2 linked regions of the Homo sapiens genome follow. The protein of the gene in region 2 purifies or fractionates together with the protein of the main gene of each other region. This does not show direct contact. Each region holds a gene or a part of one and is shown on either strand. Other genes may lie near its edges.

The links. Proteins that work in one complex are often made in the same cells at the same time.
Region 1: the proteins of MACROD1 (region 2) and CSTF3 purify together in Homo sapiens (affinity purification with mass spectrometry, with the first as the bait; one study listed by BioGRID). This does not show direct contact.

Annotation. Positions count from the first base shown.
Region 1 is NC_000011.10:33,102,481-33,105,980, reverse strand, and holds part of CSTF3 (cleavage stimulation factor subunit 3), read left to right. Parts: intron 1-63; coding exon 64-98; intron 99-287; coding exon 288-414; intron 415-2,796; coding exon 2,797-2,874; intron 2,875-3,500. UniProt on the Homo sapiens protein: One of the multiple factors required for polyadenylation and 3'-end cleavage of mammalian pre-mRNAs.
Region 2 is NC_000011.10:64,163,314-64,167,275, reverse strand, and holds the start of MACROD1 (ADP-ribose glycohydrolase MACROD1), read left to right. Parts: upstream 1-1,162; 5' UTR 1,163-1,281; coding exon 1,282-1,579; intron 1,580-3,962. UniProt on the Homo sapiens protein: Removes ADP-ribose from aspartate and glutamate residues in proteins bearing a single ADP-ribose moiety. Inactive towards proteins bearing poly-ADP-ribose.

The sequences.
Region 1 (3,500 bases), about 31 Mb from region 2:
TAATGTATGCACTTAAATGTAAGAATACCAAGAAAGATATTAACATTTCATTTTATTTCTTAGATTTGGGTGGATTACATCAATTTCCTAAAAGGCGTGTAAGTATTTGTATAGTTTTTTTTTACATCTACAGTTGATTTAGCTAAAATATAATTTTTAGTTCTTTGAGAAATCTCCATACTATTTTCCATAGAGTTGTTCTTTGGGTAGATATCCAGTAGTGAGATTGCTGGGTTGAATGAGATTTGGTTATAATATAATTGATGGCATTTCTTATCCAATCTCAGGGAAGCTGTAGGATCTTATGCAGAAAATCAAAGAATAACAGCTGTCCGAAGAGTTTATCAACGAGGTTGTGTTAATCCGATGATCAACATTGAACAGCTCTGGAGAGACTATAACAAGTATGAAGAGGTAAATTAGGTCAGAGTAGTTGTTTATTATAAACCAAGCCATTTTAATTTCTATGCATTGTGGATTTGTAGATTATAGCCTTTCTGTATCAGTGTTACACTTTTTTTATTGATTGTAATGAAAGCACTATAATGTTTTTGCAAGGTTTGAGAGTCTCCATATAGTGTTATTTTTTAGAGGATACTCTGAAGAACAATAGTTCTTATAAAACTATTTTTATTCTTTGCTAAGCCATATCCACACATTCATACACACACATACACATTGTCATTGACCTATAAAACAGTACCTTTTGGGAATTATGTTTCCAATAGTACCTTTTGGGAATTATTTTTTGGTTGCTGTGCACCTTTTTCACCTGATTACAGTGATGTGATGATTGGTTTGAATTTGTGAAGTGTGTGGCTACAATCCAAGATCTTTGTGTTATTGGTATCTACTTTTAATAACTGAGCTAATCAATCTGAATACATAAATACACATGCCAAATAAGCTCTAGCATTAAAAGGAAGTTCCTTGGCTGGGCATGGTGGCTTACACTTGTAATCCCAGCACTTTGGGAGGCCGAGATGGAAGGATTGCCTGAGCCCAGTAGTTTGAGACCAGCCTGGGCAAGATGGTGAGAGCCCGTCTCTAAAGAGAAAAAAAGAAAGTTTTTCGTATGTATATTGTGATTTGGAAGAACTATATAGGGTAGTGAAATTGTTCCCTCACAGGCATCAGCTGTGGTTTTCAAACTTTATGGTTTTTGGATTTTAACAGTTATTGAAGATCACAAAGAATTTTTTGTTTTTATTTTTTTGAGACAGGGTCTTACTCTGTCACCGAGGCTGGAATGCAGTGGCACAATCACAGCTCATTGCAGTCTCAACTTCCTGGGCTCAGGTGATTCTCCCACCTCAGCCTCCCAGGTAGCTAAGACTACAGGCATGCCCCACCACTCTCAAGCTAATTTTTTGTAGAGATGGGGTTTCTCCATGTTGCTCAGGCTGGCCTTGAACTCCTGAGCTCAAGCAATTAGCCCGCCTCGGCCTCCCAAAATGTTGGGATTACAGGCACGAGCCACCATGCCTGGCCAAAAACTGTATTTTCCAAAACAAAAAATGTAGTGTGTAGTGAGAAGAGTGGCATTGTTTTATATTTTCACAAATCTCTTTCATATCTAGTGTAATAGAAAACAGCTGGATTTTCATATCTGCTTCCATTTAGTGTGTTATAATACTAAATGTCACGTAGCCTCTGTAAAACTCCTGTATTTTATGAGAGAGGCAAATAATGTCTTAGTGTTATAATGACAACTATTTTGATCTCATGGACTCCCTGAAAGGGTCTTAGAATCCTTGGAGTACTCACTGAGTGGTAATGTTTATCTTTCCTTGCTACTTCTGTTTGTCTTTTTAAAAAGTGTTATACAACAGAACTAGTTAGAAAAGGGCTATTAGCCAGGTGTGATGGCTAATGCCTGTAATCCCAGCACTTTGGGAGGCTGAAGTGGGAGGATTGCCTGAGGCCAGGAGTTTGAGGCCAGCCCAGGCAACATAGCAAGACTATGTCTCAACAAAAAAAATTTTTTTAATTAGCCAGATCTGGCAGGGCACACCTGTAGTCCTATGTCTGAGGCAAGAGGATTACTTGAGCCCAGGAGTTCAAGGTTCCAGTGAGTTAGGATGGCACCACTGCACTGTAGCCTGGGTGACAGAGGAAGACTCTGTTTATAAAAAAGAAAAAGAAAAGGGCTATCAAAGTCAAGCCATGGCTATTCACCCAGATGAATCTGTACATATTTTTTTTTTCTTTGAGACAGAGTCTCGCTCTGTCGCCCAGGCTGGAGTGCAATAGCATGATCTCAGCTCACTGCAACCTCTGCCTCGCCATTTCAAGCAATTCTCCTGCCTCAAGCTCCCAAGTAGCTGGGATTACAGGCGCACACCACCACACCCAGCTAATTTTTTTGTATTTTTAGTAGAAACGGGGTTTCACCATGTTGGCCAGGCTGGTCATGAACTCCTGACCTCAAGTGATCCACCCAACTCGGCCTCCCAAAGTGCTAAGATTACAGGCATGAGCCATGTCATTTTTTTTTCAGTAGAATCTTATATGAAATTATTGAGCCTTTTCAAATGATTCTATCTTTAAAAGTTCCTGATAAATGGAAACTTACTGCCAGCTCATAAGACATAAGCACATCCTCCTTGATCTTGGAAATGTATAATGTGATTGAACCTTTTTTCCCTGCTTTTCATGAGCTGTATGAACCTTTATTAAACAAGAAATCTTTTAAAATAAAAATTTAAAGTTATTTAGTAAATGAATAAATTAACTGTATTGTACTAATTTTTAAGAAACTATACTTAATTTTAAAATATTTTTGTTTTTTTCTAGGGTATCAATATTCATTTAGCTAAAAAAATGATTGAAGATCGGAGTAGAGATTATATGAATGCTAGACGTGTAGCAAAGGTATGGAATTCCATCAGGCTATTTTAATGATTATTATGAGTCTGTTGTTTACAGCAGAGCTTTCCCTGTCTGGTATTACTCTTGATATTTTCAGTCATTAGCAATCTTAACAGCAATTAATTGCAAAGTCTGAGGAGATGACATATTTGAAATGAAATCTCTCTTTGTAAGAACAAAATATAATAAATTGGGTTTAGAAGAAATTGTTTTTTAAAATATGGAAACAGAAGACATAGAGAGAGACAAGGCTCTACTTAGAATTGATGAAGTAATTCTTTTCCCTCTATTATTTGGGTTCATCTGAATATTGTATTACTCTGTGGTCTAATAACATAGCTCTCAGGGACACATTTTGATTGTGTGCATACCTTTCCATTCATTGACACTCTTGGAAGTTAGGAAAAATAGCCTATTAATACAAACTATTGAAATTTTAAAAGACAGTTTCTCCAAAGATGGCAATAATAATGCCACCAGATCTTCAATCCTATTGATCTGTCAACTCTTACATCCTGGAAAGTAACCTCCTAGATCACTTACAGAGAGGGCCCATGGGTGTTTTGTTTACCCACTCCTGGGAACCTGTTCTTGAGTGGGTAATACTCTTATCTTTCTCTCTACTCTTA
Region 2 (3,962 bases):
TTACAGGTGTGAGCACTTATTCATTATTCATTATTACATTCATTATATTATTATAATGGCCCGGCCTGTATTCATTATATTTATCATAAAGTAATATTAATAGTACATAAAAATATATAAAAGTACTTAAAAATCCATCCTCGTGTTTTTTGTTTTGTTTTCTTTGAGACAGAGTCTCGTTCTGTCACCCAGGCTGGAGTGCAATGGCACGATCTCGGCTCACCGCAACCTCCGCCTTCCGGGTTCAAGTGATTCTCCTGCCTCAGCCTCCCGAGTAGCTGTAATTAACAGGCATGCACCACCACGCCTGCATAATTTTTGTATTTTTAGTAGAGACGGGGTTTCGCCATGTTGGCCAGGCAGGCCTCGAACTCCTGACCTCGTGATCCACCCAACTCGGCCTACCAAAGTGCTGGGATTACAGGCGTGAGCCACCGCGCCCGGCCGGTTTTTGTTTAAAAAAGAAAAGAAAAAAAAAAAAAAACACACAGACACACACAAAAACATCACCCCAATCCTTCCACCCTTGAACGCCACTTGAAGCCTAAGTTTCCTGCCTCCAAATTCCACTATTTCCACCCTCGACTCTCCTCCCCAGCTGTCCTAGATTCTGCTCCAGCTGAGCCTTGGCCCCGGGGCTGTTAGAAGGCAGAGGCTCTGGGGAGAAGTCCCCAAACCGGATTTACCCGTTCGTCGCACCTGTCCCTAGGAGGGCAGGCTGGGGTGTGGAGGCGGTGCCCTGCTGACCCGCGGGGAGAGAAGCCCGGGTCTCCCAGGCTGCAAAACGCTCGGCACTGCGGAAGCCGCGCCAGGCTCTCCCAGCTCGATACGCAGCGGCCGGCGCGCCTGCTCCGCCGCGGGGCCGAGCGGCAGAGGGGCCCGGGGCTGCGTGGAAGGCCCGGGGGCTTCAGCCCGTGCCGGGGAAGCCGACGCTCAGCCAACCAGAAAGTTAGAGGCGGCCGAGGTCTCGCGGAGGGGAGGCGCCTGGCGGCCACGGGAGAAGTCGAAGGGCTCAGGCGGGGCTCCATCCGCGACACTGGGAGCCCGGGCGGGCGCGCACGTGTGTATACGAGTGCGTGGGCCCATCCGGCGGCCCGGACTACAAGTTCCAGGGTGCCCAGCGGCGCTCCCGGGTTTTCTGGCCGCGCCTCCCGCTGGCTCCGAGCAGGTCGCCGCTGGCTGGCAGTCGCCACCCGGTCCCAGAGTAAATAAGGGAGAGACACTCCCGAGCGCCGTAAATAGAGTCCAAGTGGGCGGAGAGCCGTCCCGCGCCGCCCGCTCATGTCTCTACAGAGCCGACTGTCCGGCCGCCTGGCACAGCTGCGCGCGGCGGGGCAGCTGCTCGTCCCCCCGCGCCCCCGGCCCGGACACTTGGCGGGTGCCACGAGGACCCGCAGCAGCACGTGCGGTCCCCCGGCGTTCCTGGGCGTGTTCGGCCGCCGTGCGCGGACCTCGGCGGGAGTTGGGGCGTGGGGGGCGGCGGCGGTGGGGCGGACAGCCGGGGTGCGCACTTGGGCCCCCCTGGCCATGGCGGCGAAGGTGGACCTGAGCACCTCCACCGACTGGAAGGAGGCGAAATGTAAGTGTAAGCACGAGGGGGCGCGAGGGAGAGGGCGGCCTCACGTGGAGCTTCCCGGCTGGGCGGCCCCCAACGAGCGAGCAGCCCCTTCCACCCGAGAGACCTGGGGAAGTTGAGGCCCCATCTGCCCTGGAACGGACCCCTCCTCCCCATTGACAGCCCCCCCCGCCCCCGCGCGTGTTCCCAGCCCCACAGAACAATTCACTCCAGACCAGGTCCAAGTGTCCACGCAGGGGGCAGCGTGAGGAAGGCGGCCTTCCTTACCCCATTGGAATGGGTCACAGGGCACCCCAGAGATTGTGCAGGACCTACCAACTTCCTTCCCTGTGCAGGAGGGAAACTGAGGCCGAGTGCCACAGCTGGCTTCCCCAAGGTCACTCGGAGCTGGTGGCAAAGTGGAGGTTATGATCCCGGACTCTCCAAACTTTGCACAGTGTGGTTCTTAAGTGTTCGGGAATGGGGCTGAGGGAACAGCTCCGGGGCTGGCGTCCCACCTGGTGGGGCACGTAACCTCACAGAGTGACCTTCCTGGGCTGGCCTGTCCTGCCTCCACCCCACCCCAAGCCCGCACTCTGATGCCTTCCTGGGCACGTGGTCTGGCGCCCTTTTCCCCTTCTCGCTGGCCTCTGGCCACTTGTGAGCAGTTTGCTCATGCCAGGAACAGAGGTTAGAGGAGCAGGGCAGAGGTGGGGTCTTGTCCCTGTGACAACTGATGACACCCTTCAAGAATCACACCACTTCCTCTTGCTCCTGGAGGGGGCATGAGTCTGGGGCCTGGGGAGAGAGAGAACCCAAGCTGCCGCTACTGAGCCCCAAATAGCCCTGCCGGGCACCCAGCTGCCCCTGCCTTTCAGGGCCTGCCTCCTGGGATCCTGTGACTCTTCCCGGCTGGATCCCCTTTCAAAAGTGCAGGGAAGTGGCTAATTGGCTGGGCCTCCGTGGTGGAGTAGGTGTGGCCTCTGGGCTGGGCAGGCAGGATGGGGGGGTCCTGCGGTGTTAGGGGTGAAGAGAAGATGGCTTTCTCGGGACCAGAGGTGGAAATCAAAATGATTTACTCCTGACATGAATTGTGTGGCCTGCGCCAGGATCTAAAAGTGACGGCAGAAAGCACCGACTTTAGCCCGTGAGCAGATGGAGAACTTGTCAGGCACTTGGCCCTTGCCCCAGAACAGCAGGAGGAGTTTGGGGCTGGCAGAGACCCCTGGAGGGGGAGCCACTGTCCCCACAGAGACCCCTGCTCCCCTGAGCACTCTCTCAGAGGACAACAACCCAGGAGGGTGGGAAAGAGCTACGGAGACAAGGTGCCCAGGCACCTGCTCGAGGGCTGCCGCTGTTTTTAGGATCCAGCCCCCACAGCCCCACTCCTTGGTGCCAGGAAAGCAACCGGACCTTGTGATGGGGCTGGGGTTCCTGGGCTGCTGTGTTGTCACTGGGGTCTCCCTTTTGCTTCGAGGTGGGATTTCCAATCATGCAGCAAACTTTTATTGAACGCCCCCTAGGTGGTCAGGCTGGGGACTCAGACATGTGTCAGATAGGCAAGGGCCCTGCCCTCATGGAGCTTGTAATCTGGTGTGAGGATTACAAAGCATCTATTGTAAAGAATGTGTTCTAGCAGCTGAGACAAGGCCCGGTAACCTCAGTGCTGTGAAGACACCATAGCAGATGGGGCCACCTGAGCTGGGGAGATCAGAGGAGGCGTCTCAGGGGTGGTGGCCTGAGAAGAGGCATCCAGCTGGGTAATGATATTCCAGACCCGTTATTGAGTGACAGTGGGCCAGGCCCAAGGAGTGGGGCTGGTCTGGGGCTCTGCCTGCTACTGAAGCCACAGTTAGAGGGACGCTTTCGGGGGTGAGATGTGGAGATCCCCCAATAGTTATCTATTTCTGTGTAACAAAACACCCCGAACCTTAGTGGCGTAAAACAGCAAACCTGCATTCTCTCCATCTCTTGAGGGTCAGGAAACTGAGAGAAGCTTAGCTGGGTGGTTCTAGCTCAGGGTCTCCCTCCCTCTGAGGCCGGGTGGGACTTGGTTAGGGCTGGAGGATGGGCTTCCTAAACAGCTCCCTCCCATAAAATGGCATTTGGTGAGAGGCCTCGGTTGGTCACTTTGGGGCCTCTCCATGGGGCTGCTTGAGTGCCTCACATGGGATAGATGTCCTAAGCTTTTCCCCCAGAGCATATGCTCCACGAGAGGGATCGTGAGGAGACCCCGATGGAGCTGCAGTGCCTTCTTTGTGACCTCGTCTTCGAAGTCTCTCCTGCTTTATTCTAGGGGTCAGAATCGAGTCAGGGAGTCTGGCCATACTCCAGGAGAGGGAAATTAGGCTCTACCTCTTGAAAGAAAGAATCTCAAAGAATTTGAAGGTGTGTTTTTATTTTCTTA